Linked DNA regions of Homo sapiens. The protein of the gene in region 1 purifies or fractionates together with the protein of each later gene. This does not show direct contact. Each region holds a gene or a part of one and is shown in the gene's direction. Other genes may lie near its edges.

Region 1 (4,049 bases):
GAGTGCAAAATCTTTCTAGATTTTTATGACTTCTCCACAATCTTTTATAATCATTTTGCCACACCACAGTAATACTTTTGACACCTATATCTATTCTTTTTAACATTCAGTGTAGTGTCACTTATCTTTTTAGGACTCATTTCATTGACTGACTTAATATTTAAATTAGATAATATCAGTCATCAGTGATTGATGGCAGAAATAGGTTTGTGAACCTTGAAAAACAAGATTCATTACAGTGGTGGAGGCAGAAGTAGCTGAGTGCATTGGGTGAGCTATGGGCACCAGTCAGAGAGAATAAAAAGCTTCTGTTGTTTGCATGTGAAGGGGAGATGGGTTAAGGAAGTTTCCACTGTACTTCACAGTAGCTCTTGTGGTGGCGGGATGATTGAAATAGAATCCAGAATCATGATCAGCATCATCTGCCATTTTAAAGGGCAGAAGCTAGATAACCAACCTTAGGCCAGTTTTAGTTTAAAAAGTGTTCATAACCCCGACCTGCTCTCATGAAGACCTATCCCATAATTTTAGAAAAATAAACTGATAGATTTTAAAGACAACTTAGTACACAAACTGCAATCAAGACCTTGCTGTAGAAAGTGGAGAAAAAAGACAGTTATAAGGAATCTTTCCTTCTCTCAAAATTATGACTGCTCTTTATCCCTAGCCAAAATTTCTATTTTTTTTTTCAAGGGAGCTGGTCTCAGCTATGTGTTAGCAGAAAAGTAGTTTCAATGAAAAACTATTTTCACTGATACATAAATCTTAAAATCTTTAAAAAGTAGAAACAGTGTGCTGGTCTTGTAATTTATTTGAAGCTAACATTTCTTAAAAATTTTTTACCTTTATATGATGATAATGTCAACCTTCAGAAGAGAGTAACATCTTCCATTTGAATACCTATCTTGTTTATAAATTGGGGGGGCTGATTTATTCATTTATTTCAAAAAGGATAGTAATTGTAACTTATTTGTTTCTTATTAGGAGACTTAGCTAGTAAATGTTTTCTATTCACATAAGAAGTCTATGCCTTCTTTCCCTACATATCATCTGTTAAGTTTTTACTATAGTCAGTACAAATCAGCCAAAAGAGACATTGCCATTGAAAGTATTTGGAGCTGAAAGCAGGCTAAACAATGAAATTTCTGGCAGCCTAATTTAAGGTATGCCTTAGTAATAACTTAGTAACAGTTGAACTTCAAGGAAATCTCTGAAATCTAAACTTTCTTCTTCTAGGTCACCATCACGCCCAGCTCCATGAGGAAAATCTGCACATACTTCCATAGAAAGTCCCAGGAGGACTTCTGTGGTCCTGAACACTCAACAGAATTATAGATTCTAATCTGAGTGAGTTACTGAGCTTTGGTCCACTAAAACAAGCTGAGCTTTGGTCCACTAAAACAAGATGAAAAATACAAGAGTGACTCTATAACTCTGGTCTTTAAGAAAGCTGCCTTTTCATTTTTAGACAAAATCTTTTCAACGCTGAAATGTACCTAATCTGGTTCTACTACCATAATGTATATGCAGCTTCCCGAGGATGAATGCTGTGTTTAAATTTCATAAAGTAAATTTGTCACTCTAGCATTTTGAATGAATAGTCTTCACTTTTTAAATTATTCATCTTCTCTATAATAATGACATCCCAGTTCATGGAGGCAAAAAACAAGTTTCTTGTTATCCTGAAACTTTCTATGCTCAGTGGAAAGTATCTGCCAGCCACAGCATGAGGCCTGTGAAGGCTGACTGAGAAATCCTCTGCTGAAGACCCCTGGTTCTGTTCTGCCTCCAACATGTATAATTTTATTTGAAATACATAATCTTTTCACTATGCTTTTGTGGGGTTTTTTTTAAGTATGTGTAAAAATGTGATGCTCAGATAAGTACATTTATATCAGTTCAGTGTTAAAATGCAGTCTCTTGAGTTAAAGTCATCTTTATTTTAAATGCAGTGATAAATGTCAACTCTTCGGAGAAACTAGGAGAACAACAACAGAAAGCTGTGTTTGTCTTTTTTCTCTCAAATATATCTCCCGTATGAGATTTCAGGTCCCCATGTTTTCACCAAGCAATCTGCTATGTCAGCCAACCCAACATCACTTTCTACAGGAGGTTATGATTTTTGCCATTTACTAGAGGAAGATGTTTTATGAAATCAATTTGGGGTTTGAATTCAGGTGCAGTCATCAGTTCTTTAGGGGCTGCAATGTTTTAAAAAAAATAAGTCATCAGATTTTAAGAAAAAAGTGATGATTTCTTATTGATATTTTTGTAACAGAATATAGCTCTTAACTGAAAATCCAGAACCAGAAACATAAATCTTGAGTTTCTTTTCATGTACATAAAAAGCAATAGCCTTTTAGTATAGATAGCCCTGAGCCAAAAAGTAATAGAATTTTCTCTAGATATTTAATACAGAGAGTGTATAGACTGACTCTAAGTTAATAATGTGCAAAATATCTTAAACATCCCTCCCCTTATTCAACAATTATGTATCAGTGATCTTGAACCATTGTTTTATATTTTTCACCTTTGTAACCTCATGGAAAGAGGCTTTACATACTTTCTATGTACTATTTACTTAGAAGGGAGCCCCCTTCCAGTCATGAAACTTCATTTGTTTTATCCATATCCCTGAGGACTGTGTAGACTTTATGTCAGTTTTTGTCATTATTTGAAAATCTATTCTGACAACTTTTTAATTCCTTTGATCTTATAAGTTAAAGCTGTAACAACTGAAATTGCATGGATCAAGTAAGCATAGTTTTATCCAGGGAGAAAAATAAAAGGAAGCCATAGAATTGCTCTGGTCAAAACCAAGCACACCATAGCCTTAACTGAATATTTAGGAAATCTGCCTAATCTGCTTATATTTGGTGTTTGTTTTTTGACTGTTGGGCTTTGGGAAGATGTTATTTATGACCAATATCTGCCAGTAACGCTGTTTATCTCACTTGCTTTGAAAGCCAATGGGGGAAAAAAATCCATGAAAAAAAAAAGATTGATAAAGTAGATGATTTTGTTTGTATCCCTACCCATCTCCTGGCAGCCCTACTGAGTGAAATTGGGATACATTTGGCTGTCAGAAATTATACCGAGTCTACTGGGTATAACATGTCTCACTTGGAAAGCTAGTACTTTTAAATGGGTGCCAAAGGTCAACTGTAATGAGATAATTATCCCTGCCTGTGTCCATGTCAGACTTTGAGCTGATCCTGAATAATAAAGCCTTTTACCTTATCTGATGTCCTTTTCTGAGCTTTTTGCATTACCTAGAAGCAGTCTACAAAAAAGAACTATAGTAGTCAAGAATCCCTTCTACTTGTTCATTAAAATGTTTATTCCCAAAGTTATAATCTATTTCAAGCTGAAAGAGCTTTTAATAAAAAACATCTTGCTTGGATCAGACTTTGAGCATTTAAGATGGCTTGGATTACTTGATAAAGCAGGGTGGAGTGATGTAGTTCTTTTTCTAAACAAGTATTTCCAGCACAAACTTTTCCATTTGAATACATTCCAAGCACTATTGCTAGGATCCCGTATTAGAGTTTGCTTTTGGCTGTTTCAACACGGGCCCTTAATTAAATTTTGTGAGGATGACTGATTAGTGTCTTCAAATGTCTCTTCATCTGGACTGCACATTTAACTGATGTTGGATCAAGACCATGTGTAGCTACTCTTGTGTTGAGGGTCAGCCCATTATCCCCATCCCCAGCCCTAACAGCTTAAAACAGCTTTAACTCCCATCTTGAAATTAGCCTATGGCCATGTTCATAACATAGGTAGTGTGTGGGTTCAACAAATGCTTTTTGAGAGCCTGTCATAGCCAACACACTACTGCTCTTAAGTCTGTTTTTCTGCTTTTCCTAGTCCCTAGTTCCTTTTACATTGCTCTTAAAGCAAAGGCCAAGTAGTCTAACAGAGAAAAATAAATTCCACAACTAAGATAGTGTGGGCAACATTTTACAAATGTGTGTCAGAAGACAGACTGAGTGAAAACATTGTACTAGAAAAACTGAGTTAATTTCCTCCCTATGGCAATTCAACAC
Region 2 (3,500 bases), about 51 Mb from region 1:
AGGGAGATTGAGGCTGCAGTGAGCTATGATTGTGCCACTGCACTCCAGCCTGGGTGACAGTGTGTGACCTTTCTTAAAAAAAAAAAAAAAGAAAAAGAAAAAGAAAAAAAGAGATAGGGCCCTAGTAAAGATGAAGTGGTTAATCATCTTTATTAGGGGAAAGTTTCTGGCTGTGTGACTGGAGATGATATTTGCAAATACACTCGTATTTGGTAATGGTTTGAATGGATTGAGTCCACTGTTGTCAGATGACCAGGAGAGTCTAAAGGGGCAATTCTGGACTTGGAGAGAAGTCCATGATAGCATTAATGTACTTCACTGTTCACAAAGATGTTTCACACTCATTGGTTCACATGATACAACAACCTTATGCAGTAGGAATCATTATCTGCATTTTGCAGGTAAGAAAACTAAGGCTTAAAGGGGTTAATCCAGTGGTTCTCAGTTCACACTACACATTAGAATTATGTGGGAGATCTTTTTAAAAATACTGAGGCCTGAGCCTTACCCCCAGTAGTTGTGTAGTTGTTCTGAGGGTCCAGTATTCATGTTTTTAAAATGATTCAGGTGATTCTAACATATAGCCATGGTTAAGAACCACAGGGTTAAATGTCTGTGCCAGGCCATAGAGCCAATAAAGTAGCAGAGGCAGAACCTGAAACCTGGTCTTTTGTCTCTGAGCCTCATATTTTTCATTTTTTCCCCCCACACTCTGATTTTTCAGGTTTCATTTAAGACCATTACATTATCCCTCAGGAAGCCTGTATCAATTCTGTATCAGTTAGGGTTTATAGGCTACAGAAACCAACTTTGACCAACTTTCTTTTTTTTTTTTTTTTTTTTTTTTTTTTTTTGAGACGGAGTCTTGCTCTGTTGCCAGGCTGTAGTGTGGTAGCGTGATCTCAGCTCACTGCAACCTCCGCCTCCTGGGTTCAAGCAATTCCCCTGCCTCTGCTGAGTAGCTGGGACTACAGGCACATGCCACCATGCCCGGCTAATTTTTTTGTATTTTAGTAGAGATGGGGTTTCACCATGTTGGCCAGGATGATCTTGATCTCCTGACCTGGTGATCTGCCCACCTCGGCCTCCCAAAGTGCTGCGATTACAGGCGTGAGCCACCACGCCTGGCCCTTTTTTTTTTTAAAGGGCTATTTTTGAATAATAGTGGGTATTTCACAGAATTGAACAGAATGAAAAAGAAGGCTAAATAACTAGACTGAACAAAGTTCAAGAACTGGGGCAGCTTTAGGGAATCTAGGAATAGGAATGGAAGGTCATCTCTACAGAACCAATAGGAATCTTAACTCCAGCTGTCTTCTATACCCATTTGTCTGCAAAATTCCAATTCCTGTAGAGAGATTCCATAGGTCACTGCCCCTGGGTCAGGGGTCATGTGGTTAGTAGCCCCAAAAGAACCACACCAAGTTAAGGAGGGGCAGTTCCCCAATGGATGGGATACTGAGCAGACCCAAACAAAAGTTACTCATTACAAAGCCCTTCCTGACAGCCCTCACTGCAAGTCTAGGCTCCCCTGTAGGTACTCCAGTAGCTCTCCAACCCCATTCTTTTTTTTTTTTTTTTGAGACGGAGTTTCGCTCTGTCGCCAGGCTGGAGTGCAGTGGTGCGATCTTGGCTCACTGCAACCTCTGCCTCCCGGGTTCAAATGATTCTCCTGCCTCAGCCTCCCAAGTAGCTGGGACTACAGGCGCACACCACCATACCCAACTAATTTTTCTATTTTTAGTAGCGACAGAGTTTCACCATGTTGGCCAGGATGGTCTCAATTTCTTGACCTTGTGATCCGCCTGCCTTGGCCTCCCAAAGTGCTGGGATTACAGGTGTGAGCCACCGCACCTGGCCCCCATTCTTATATTAAATGCCTATTTCCCACCAAACTATGAGCCAGGAGAAGCCAGAGGCCAAATCTATTCTGTGATATCCCTCAGTGGGCCCTCAAATATCTCAAAAATAGTAAGCCCTCCGTGTTTGGTGAATGGAATTCCAGAAAAATTTTAGGTAGAAATCGCAAACTTGTGGTTCTACTCCTTTTCCAAGGTAGGTGCCCACTACTGCACCTTTGTAAAGCCTGCCACCCTATGTGCTATCTGGACCCTCTGCCATTTCCACTATCCCCTCTTTCATCTCTTCTCTCACCTTGTTAGGTGATTGCTGGCTTCAACCGCCTTCGGCAGGAACAGCGAGGCCTGGCATCCAAAGCAGCTGAGTTGGAGATGGAGTTGAATGAGCACAGGTGAGAAAGTCAGGGAGAGGCAAACAGTAGGACAGTTGTGTGGGCTACTCCGTGAGGGGGATTTGTAGTAGAGTGGGGCTGAATCCTCAGGTCCTGCCTTGTTCTCCTATCCCAGCCTAGTGATCGATACACTGAAGGAGGTAGATGAAACTCGTAAGTGCTACCGCATGGTTGGAGGAGTGCTGGTGGAGCGAACTGTCAAAGAGGTGCTGCCCGCTTTGGAGAACAACAAGGAGCAGGTGAGCAAGAATCATTGAATAGGATCGGGTACAGTGGCTGTAAACCCAGCACTTTGGGAGGCCAAGGCAGGTGGACTCTTTGAGTCCGGGAGTTCGAGACCAGCCTGGGCAACATGGTGAAACCATATCACTACAAAAAATACAAAAGATTAGCTGGGTATGGTGGTATGTGCCTGTAGTCCCAGCTACTCACCTGAGCCTAAAATGTCGAGGCTTCAGTGAGCTGTGATCACCTCACTGCACTCCAGCCTGGGTGACAGAGTGAGACCCTGTCTCAGATAAAAGGAGGGCAGCATAAAATAGCCTATGCTCATTATGCTATGCTAAGTGCAACTCTTAGACAAGAGGAATTGCTGACTGCTGTGGGCTCTGTGACTTGGCTGAATTGGGGTGGGAGGATTGGGGTTAGAGTAATGTTTCTCATAGTGTGTGTTTCACGAATACATGAATCAAAATCACCTGAAGGACTAATTTATAAATGCAGCTTCCCAGACCCACTGGATTAGAACCTTTGGGAGTGCCATGAAGTGACATTTTAAAAATAAGCTAGGCAGGTTGCAGTGACTCACACCTGTAATCCCAGCACTTTGGGAGGCCGAGGCGGGCGGATCACGAGGTCAGGAGGTCAAGACCATCCTGGCTAGCATGGTGAAACCCCATCTCTACTAAGAATACGAAAAATTGGCTGGGCGTTGTGGTGGGCGCCTGTGGTCCTAGCTACTCGGGAGGGCAAGGCAGGAGAATGGCGTGAACCTGCGAGGCGGAGCTTGCAGTGAGCTGAGATTGCACCACTGCACTCCAGCCTGGGCGACACAGCGATGCTGCAACTCAAAAAAAAAATATTAAAAATAAAAAATGAAAAAATAAAAATAAGCTCATGCCTGTATTCCTAGCGCTTTGGGAGACCGAGGCAGGAGGACTGCTTGAGGCAGAAGTTTGAGACCAGCCTGGGTAACATAGTAGGAACTTGTCTCTGTAAAAAATAAAAATAAGCAGCCCAGGTGATTCTA
Region 3 (3,500 bases), on another chromosome or scaffold:
AAAAGGTAGGAAGAAAAACAGGGTAGACGATGACAGCAGACGTTAGGCTAAGGGATTAGTTTTTCTTTTATGATCCAGTAGAAAGCAAAAATTTGATATAGGGGAATTGGGGAGAGGATTCTTGCAGGAGTAGACAAGAGAGGAAGGAATCTAGCAGAGGGATAGGCTTTAGATAGGAATATGGGTAGTTCATCTGTGTCAGAGATTCTCAGCCTCAGCACTACTGGCGTTTTCGGCTAGATACTTTGTTGTGGGGGCTGTCCTGTGTATTGCAGGAGGTTTTAGCAGCACCACTCCTCTGATTGCTGGATGCCAATAGTACTGCTGTTCCTAGTTGTGACAAGAAAAATGTCTGTAGACATATTAGTGATATAGTGGTGGAATTTGTGTAAGTACTCTTTCATTGCATTGCTCCAGTATTCTTTTTTTGTTGGCTTTTTGGTTTTGAGAGAGGGTCTGGCTCTGTCAACCAAGCTGTAGTGCAGTGGTGTGATCTCAGCTCACTTCAGTGTCCGTCTCCTAGCATCCCAAGTAGTTGGGACTACAGGTGCACACCACTACGCCTGGCTAATTTTTGTATTTTTAGTAGAAACGGGGTTTCACCATGTTGCCCAGGCTGGTCTCAAACTCCAGGGCTCAAGCAATCCACCTGCCTTGGCCTCCCAAAGTGCTGGGATTACAGGTGTGAGCCACCATGCCCAGCCTTGCTTCAATATTCTTAAGGAAGTTGAAATCAGAGACATCAGCTGGAACGGTGGATGGGGTTGCAGTGTGAGGTTGAGGAGAGACAATAATGTGAGAAGTAATCCCCTTAGGAGAGTGGGACAATGAATGGACTCAGCATGTAAACTTGGCAGCATTAAGGACTTGTTGAAGATCATAATGATTAAAATTAGATCAGTCATACTGGGCACAGTGGCTTCATGCTTGTAGTCCTGGCTACAAGCCTCAGTCCCAGCGGAGGTGGGAGGATCTTGTGAGCCCAGAAATTTGAGCCCAGACTGGGCAACACACTAAGACCCCATCTCTAAAAAAAATTTGATTTGGTGCTTTTTCCCATCACATTTCAGCTACATGAGTACGGGAAAGGAGTGAGCAAACAATTAGGTTTAACCACAGTTGCAATTTTTGCCTAACAAGTATGACAGCAAGAGAGGGACAAGGGAGATGAGTACCTATGCGGTTCAATGATGATAAGTTATTACAATGAGTGACCATAGGAGTTAGGCTAGGTAAAGAGGGAAGTGAGGCCTTTATGGAGAAAGGCAGTGACATGTAAGGGATAAGTGGTTTGGAGGGCACAGTGGGTTCAAGGATTGTTGGGTTTGAGATACTAGAGAAAATGAGGTAGAAAAACAATTTTAAAAAATTAAGATGGCAGGGCGTGGTAGCTCACGCCTGTAATCCCAGCACATTGGGAGGCTGAGGTGGGCAGATCACCTGAGGTCGGGAGCTTGAGATCAGCCTGGCCAACATGGTGAAACCTTGTTTCTACTAAAAATACAAAAATTAGCCGGTGTGGTCTCATGTGCCTGTAATCCCAGCTACTGGGGAGGCTGAAGCACAAGAATCATTTGAACCCGGGATGTGGAGGTTGCAGTGAGCCGAGATTGCACCACTGCACTCCAGCCTGGGTGACAGAGTAAGACTCTGTCTCAAAAAAAAAAAAAGATGGTTTATAACTCTTACTCAACCAATCTTACCTCTTGATGTATATGTTTTTTAAAATTTATAGTTCTTTATGAAACATTTCTCCTAAGTATATTGCACGAGAAGGATGAAAGGTATGAGACTATTGCTTATTGTATTGAAAACACTTCCTCTTCCAGTTGGCAAGTATAAAACGGTACCAACTGTGAAGGACTTAAAAATATCTTTGGCCAGGCGCGGTGGCTCACACCTGTAATCCCAGCACTTTGGGAGGCTGAGGCAGGCGGATCACAAGGTCAGGAGATCAAGACCATCCTGGCTAACATGGTGAAACCACGTCTCTACTAAAAATATAAAAAATTAGCCAGGTGTGGTGGCAGGCGCCTGTAGTCCCAGCTACTTGGGAGGCTGAGGCAGGAGAATGGTGTGAACCTGGGAGGCGGAGCTTGCAGTGAGCCAAGATCACACCACTGCACTCCAGCCAGGGTGACAGAGCGAGACTCCATCTCAAAAACAAAACAAAACAAAACAAAACAAAAAATAACTTCATCTGCTTTTCTACTCGTTTGCCAGGTGAACGGGGGATTCTTTTTTTGTTCTTCATTAATATTTGCAATAGTGAGGCAGACACTGCTTCAGACATCTTGCCTTTTTTGTGCATTATTTATGAAATTACTTGGCAATGATGCTCCTTGAAAAAGCGGCCAGTTTGTAAAAAAGCCTTCATATGTAGATGTTGAATTTTGCATTTCAAGGTCCCTTGATAATTTGGTAGTTTGAAAAAGCTGGGCTTTCTTGATTGCTTTGGTCTTATTCTTTACCTAGCATTTTTTCCCTAGCACAGGGCAATTGATTTATTTTCAGTGGTAGCTGAAACAAATATAAAATTAGATACTGTTTTTTGCAGTGGTCATAATTATCATTTTATAGTACTATAGTGTTATCCTCATCTGTGAGGAAACCAAAGAGATAAAAATGTCATTGGTTTTCTAAACGAGTTAAAGTGACTAAATGTAGACTTTGGATAAATGGGAACTTTTTCTTTCAAAAAATGATTCATTCTGATTATGAAAGTAATCGATATAATAGTTACACTTGGCAAAAAATTGGAAAATTCAACAGTATAGTGCTATGCATAGCAAGCAATGTAAATTTGAATTGTGAATGGAAAAAAGTACAGAATATTAATATATGCAAGGAATAAATTTGCATAAATTTCTCCTCCCATTCTCCTTTGCCCCCAAATCAATAAAGTATAGAATTATTTTCAAAGCTGGGGCCAAGTGAATTATAAACTCTGTGTTCTTGCCACATGGTGGCACCACTTTTGCAGGTAAATAGGATTAATTTTTCTGTTAGGATTAATCTTGTTTCATGTGAGTTTTGAGTTATGTGAGGTCTTTAGTTATGCACTCCTGGCATAAAATGTGACCACTGAGATGAAGAAGAAAATGAAAGCCACCTATAATCTGACTACCCACAGATAATTGCTATTAGTATTTTGATATATGTGTATAGAAATATATTTTAATAGTGTTTTACATACTGTTTTATCCAGTTTTTTCATTTAGGAAAAATACGTGGTGACTAGATTATAACTATACAGTATTCTACCTTTTTTTTTTTTTTGAGATGGAGTCTCACTCTGTTGCCCAGGCTGGAGTGCAGTGGCATGATCTCGGCTTACTGCAACCTCCACCTCCCGGGTTCAAGCTATTCTCCTGCCTCAGCCTCCCTAGTAGCTGGGACTGCAGGCATGTGCCTCTATGCCTGGCTAATTTTTTTATTTTAGTAGAGACAGGGTTTCACCATATTGGTCAGGCTGGCCTTGAACTCCTGACCTCGTGATC
Region 4 (3,500 bases), about 56 Mb from region 1:
GCAGAAGCGCCCCTCACCTCCCGGATGGGGCGGCTGGCCGGGCCGGGGGCTGACCCCCCTACCTCCCTCCCGGACGGGGGGACTGACCCCCCCCACCTCCCTCCCGGACGGGGCGGCTGGCTGGGCAGAGGGGCTCCTCACTTCCCAGTAGGGGTGGCCAGGCAGAGGCGCCCCTCACCTCCCGGACGGGGCGGCTGGCTGGGCGGGGGGCTGACCCCCCCACCTCCCTGCCAGATGGGGCGGCTGGACCCCCACCTCCCTCCCGGACGGGGTGGCTGCCGGACGGAGGGGCTCCTCACTTCTCAGACAGGGCGGTTGCCAGGCAGAGGGTCTCCTCACCTCCCAGACGGGGTCGCGGCTGGGCAGAGGCGCTCCTCACATCCCAGACGGGGCGGTGGGGCAGAGGTGCTCCCCACATCCCAGACGATGGGCGGCCGGGCAGAGACGCTCCTCACTTCCTAGATGGGATGGCGGCCGGGCAGAGAAGCTCCTCACTTTCCAGACTGGGCAGCCAGGCAGAGGGGCTCCTCACATCCCAGACGATGGGCGGCCAGGCAGAGACGCTCCTCACTTCCCAGACGGGGTGGCGGCCGGGCAGAGGCTGCAATCTCGGCTCTTTGGGAGGCCAAGGCAGGCGGCTGGGAGGTGGTTGTAGCGAGCCGAGATCACGCCACTGCACTCCAGCCTGGGCACCATTGAGCACTGAGTGAACGAGACTCCGTCTGCAATCCCGGCACCTCGGGAGGCCGGGGCTGGCGGATCACTCGCGGTTAGGAGCTGGAGACCAGCCCGGCCAACACAGCGAAACCCCGTCTCCACCAAAAAAATACGAAAACCAGTCAGGCGTGGCGGCGCGCGCCTGCAATCGCAGGCACTCGGCAGGCTGAGGCAGGAGAATCAGGCAGGGAGGTTGCAGTGAGCCGAGATGGCAGTAGTACAGTCCAGCTTCAGCTCGGCATCAGAGGGAGACCGTGGAAAGAGAGGGAGAGGGAGACCGTGGAGAGGGAGAGGGGAGAGGGGAGAGGCGAGAGGCTATGTACATTTTTAAAAGCTTATTTTACCTGCCAGTAAGCAGGTAGTACAAGCAATTTGTGCAAAAGGCTTTTGACAAAAAGAATATTTACAATACTCTCTTTATACTTTTTCTAGAAACAAGCTTTTTTGTGTGTGGGTTTGCATCTATGTATATGTTATTTTGTGTGTGTCTATTAGAAAGTAAAGACAAATTTTATTTGTTTATTTATTTTGAGACAGAGTCTCACTCTATCACCCAGGCTGGGGTGCCTGGGCACAGTCTCCACTCACTGCAACCTCTGCCTCTCAGGTTCAAGCAATTCTTGTGCCTCAGCCTCCCAACTAGCTGGGATTACAGACACCCACCAACACACCTGGCTAATTTTTGTATTTTTGGTAGAGACAGTTTCACCATGTTGTCCAGGCTAGTCTCAAAACTCCTGGTCTCAAGCGATTTGCCTGCCTCGGCTTCCCAAAGTGCTGGGATTACAAGGTGTGAGCCACCATTCCCAGCCAGAAAGTAAAGACAAATTTTAAAAGAAGGAGATGTTTTACCAATAATCCCTTATCCAGAGGGTAAATTGTGTACATTTTCTTTTTTTTTTCTTTTTCTTTTTTTTTTTTTTTTTGAGATGGAGTCTCACTCTGTGGCTTAGGCTGGAGTGCAATGGCACGATCTTGGCTCACCACAACCTCCGCCTCCCTGGTTCAAGCGATTCTCCTGCCTCAGCCTCCCGAGTAGCTAGGAATACAGGCATGTGCCATCATGCCTGGCTAATTTTTGTATTTTTAGTAGAGATGGTTTCACCATGTTGGCCAGGCTGGTCATGAACTCCTGACCTCAGGTAATCCATCTGCCTTGGCCTCCCAAAGTGCTAGGATTACAGATGTGAGCCACCACACCCAGCCTTAATTGTGCACATTTTCTAATTTTAATTTTTTATTTTTTTGAAACAGAATCTTGCTCTATTGCCCAGGCTGGAGTGCAATAGTGTGATCACGGCTCACTGCAGCCTTGACCTTCTGGGCTCAATGAGTCCTCCCAGCCCAGGTTCCCAAGTAGCTACAGGCACATGCCACCATACCTGGCTAATTTTTGAATTTTTTCGTAGAGACAGGGTTTTGCTATGTTTCTCAGGCTGGTCTAAAAATTCCAGAGCTCAGGTGATCTGCTCACCCTAGCCTCCCAAAGTGCTGGGATTACAGGTGTGAGCTACCGCATCCAGCCCTGAATATTCTTTCAGAGGTAGGGTTTTGTGTGTTTTGTTTTTAGTTCAAGCAGTTTGACTACATCCTAAGGTATAAAGGTACTAATAAACAAGTCAGTTTTTCTTTTGTGCATTTTTCTTTATTTTAGAGCCTTCAGGGAAATTTTTTTTTAGAAAGATCAAGAGAAGGCCAGGCGTGGTAGCTTACGCCTGTAATCCCAGCACTTTGGGTGGCCGAGGTGGACAGATCACCTGAGGTCACGAGTTCGAGACCAGCCTGGCCAACCAACATAGTAAAACCCGTCTCTACTAATAAAGTACAAAAGTTAGCTGGGTGTGGTGATGCATGCATGTAATCCCAGCTACTTGGGAGGCCGAGGTGGGAAAATCGCTTGAATCTGGGAGGCGGAGGTTGCAGTGAGCAGAGATTGCGCCACCGCACTCCAGCCTGGGCGACACAGCGAGACTGCTTCTCAAAAAAAAAAAAAAAAAATCAAAAGAATAAGTAAGCCCTAGAATCAGTCTTTCATCATTTTATTTTTTGAGATAGGGTCTCACTCTGTCACCCAGATTGGAGTGCAATGGTGCGGTCATGGCTCATTGCACCCTCAACCTCCTGGGCTCAAGTGATCCTCTTAACCTCAGCCTCCTGAGTAGCTGGGACTGCAGGCTCATACCACCACACTAAGCTAAATTTTAAATTTTTTTGTAAAGACAGGGTCTCACTGTGTTGCCCAGGCTGATCTTGAATTTCTGGGATTACAGGTATGAGCCACCATGCCTAGCCTGGGCAACAAGGATGTTTTCTGTATAAATTGCCGTCTTATACAATGTGTAGAATTTGGAATAGTATGAATGGCCAAATGTCATACCTTTTGGGAGAGTCTGATTTAGGAGAGTATTTTTTGGAAGAATAATTAAGTTACTTGCCTTGATATCCAGATGCTTTAAATATTACTATGGTGCTTGTATCTTTTTCAGCAGGGGAAATGCTGTCTGTAGCTGAGCACTTCCTGGAGCAGCAGATGCACCCAACAGTGGTGATCAGTGCTTACCGCAAGGCATTGGATGATATGATCAGCACCCTAAAGAAAATAAGGTATCTTGGGGGCAAGAAATAGGTAGTATCAAATATGAGAGGCCTGGCTAGACGTGGTGGCTCATGGCTGTCATCCCAGCACTTTGGGAGGCCTAGGCGGGTGGATCTTGAGGTCAGGAGATGGAAACCATCCTGGCCAACATGGTGAAACCTCGTCTGTACTAAAAATACAAAAAATT

Evidence for each region. The genes of interacting proteins can lie anywhere in the genome.
Region 2: the proteins of DTL (region 1) and PFDN2 purify together in Homo sapiens (affinity purification with mass spectrometry; 2 studies listed by BioGRID and IntAct, with this or other methods). This does not show direct contact.
Region 3: the proteins of DTL (region 1) and COPS4 purify together in Homo sapiens (affinity purification with mass spectrometry; 3 studies listed by BioGRID). This does not show direct contact.
Region 4: the proteins of DTL (region 1) and CCT3 purify together in Homo sapiens (co-immunoprecipitation; 3 studies listed by BioGRID and IntAct, with this or other methods). This does not show direct contact.

The regions. Positions count from the first base shown.
Region 1 is NC_000001.11:212,101,606-212,105,654, forward strand, and holds the end of DTL (denticleless protein homolog), read left to right. Parts: intron 1-1,236; coding exon 1,237-1,335; 3' UTR 1,336-3,408; downstream 3,409-4,049. UniProt on the Homo sapiens protein: Substrate-specific adapter of a DCX (DDB1-CUL4-X-box) E3 ubiquitin-protein ligase complex required for cell cycle control, DNA damage response and translesion DNA synthesis.
Region 2 is NC_000001.11:161,101,038-161,104,537, reverse strand, and holds part of PFDN2 (prefoldin subunit 2), read left to right. Parts: intron 1-2,162; coding exon 2,163-2,251; intron 2,252-2,366; coding exon 2,367-2,490; intron 2,491-3,500. UniProt on the Homo sapiens protein: Binds specifically to cytosolic chaperonin (c-CPN) and transfers target proteins to it. Binds to nascent polypeptide chain and promotes folding in an environment in which there are many competing pathways for nonnative proteins.
Region 3 is NC_000004.12:83,052,183-83,055,682, forward strand, and holds part of COPS4 (COP9 signalosome complex subunit 4), read left to right. Parts: intron 1-3,500. UniProt on the Homo sapiens protein: Component of the COP9 signalosome complex (CSN), a complex involved in various cellular and developmental processes.
Region 4 is NC_000001.11:156,324,793-156,328,292, reverse strand, and holds part of CCT3 (T-complex protein 1 subunit gamma), read left to right. Parts: intron 1-3,203; coding exon 3,204-3,321; intron 3,322-3,500. UniProt on the Homo sapiens protein: Component of the chaperonin-containing T-complex (TRiC), a molecular chaperone complex that assists the folding of actin, tubulin and other proteins upon ATP hydrolysis.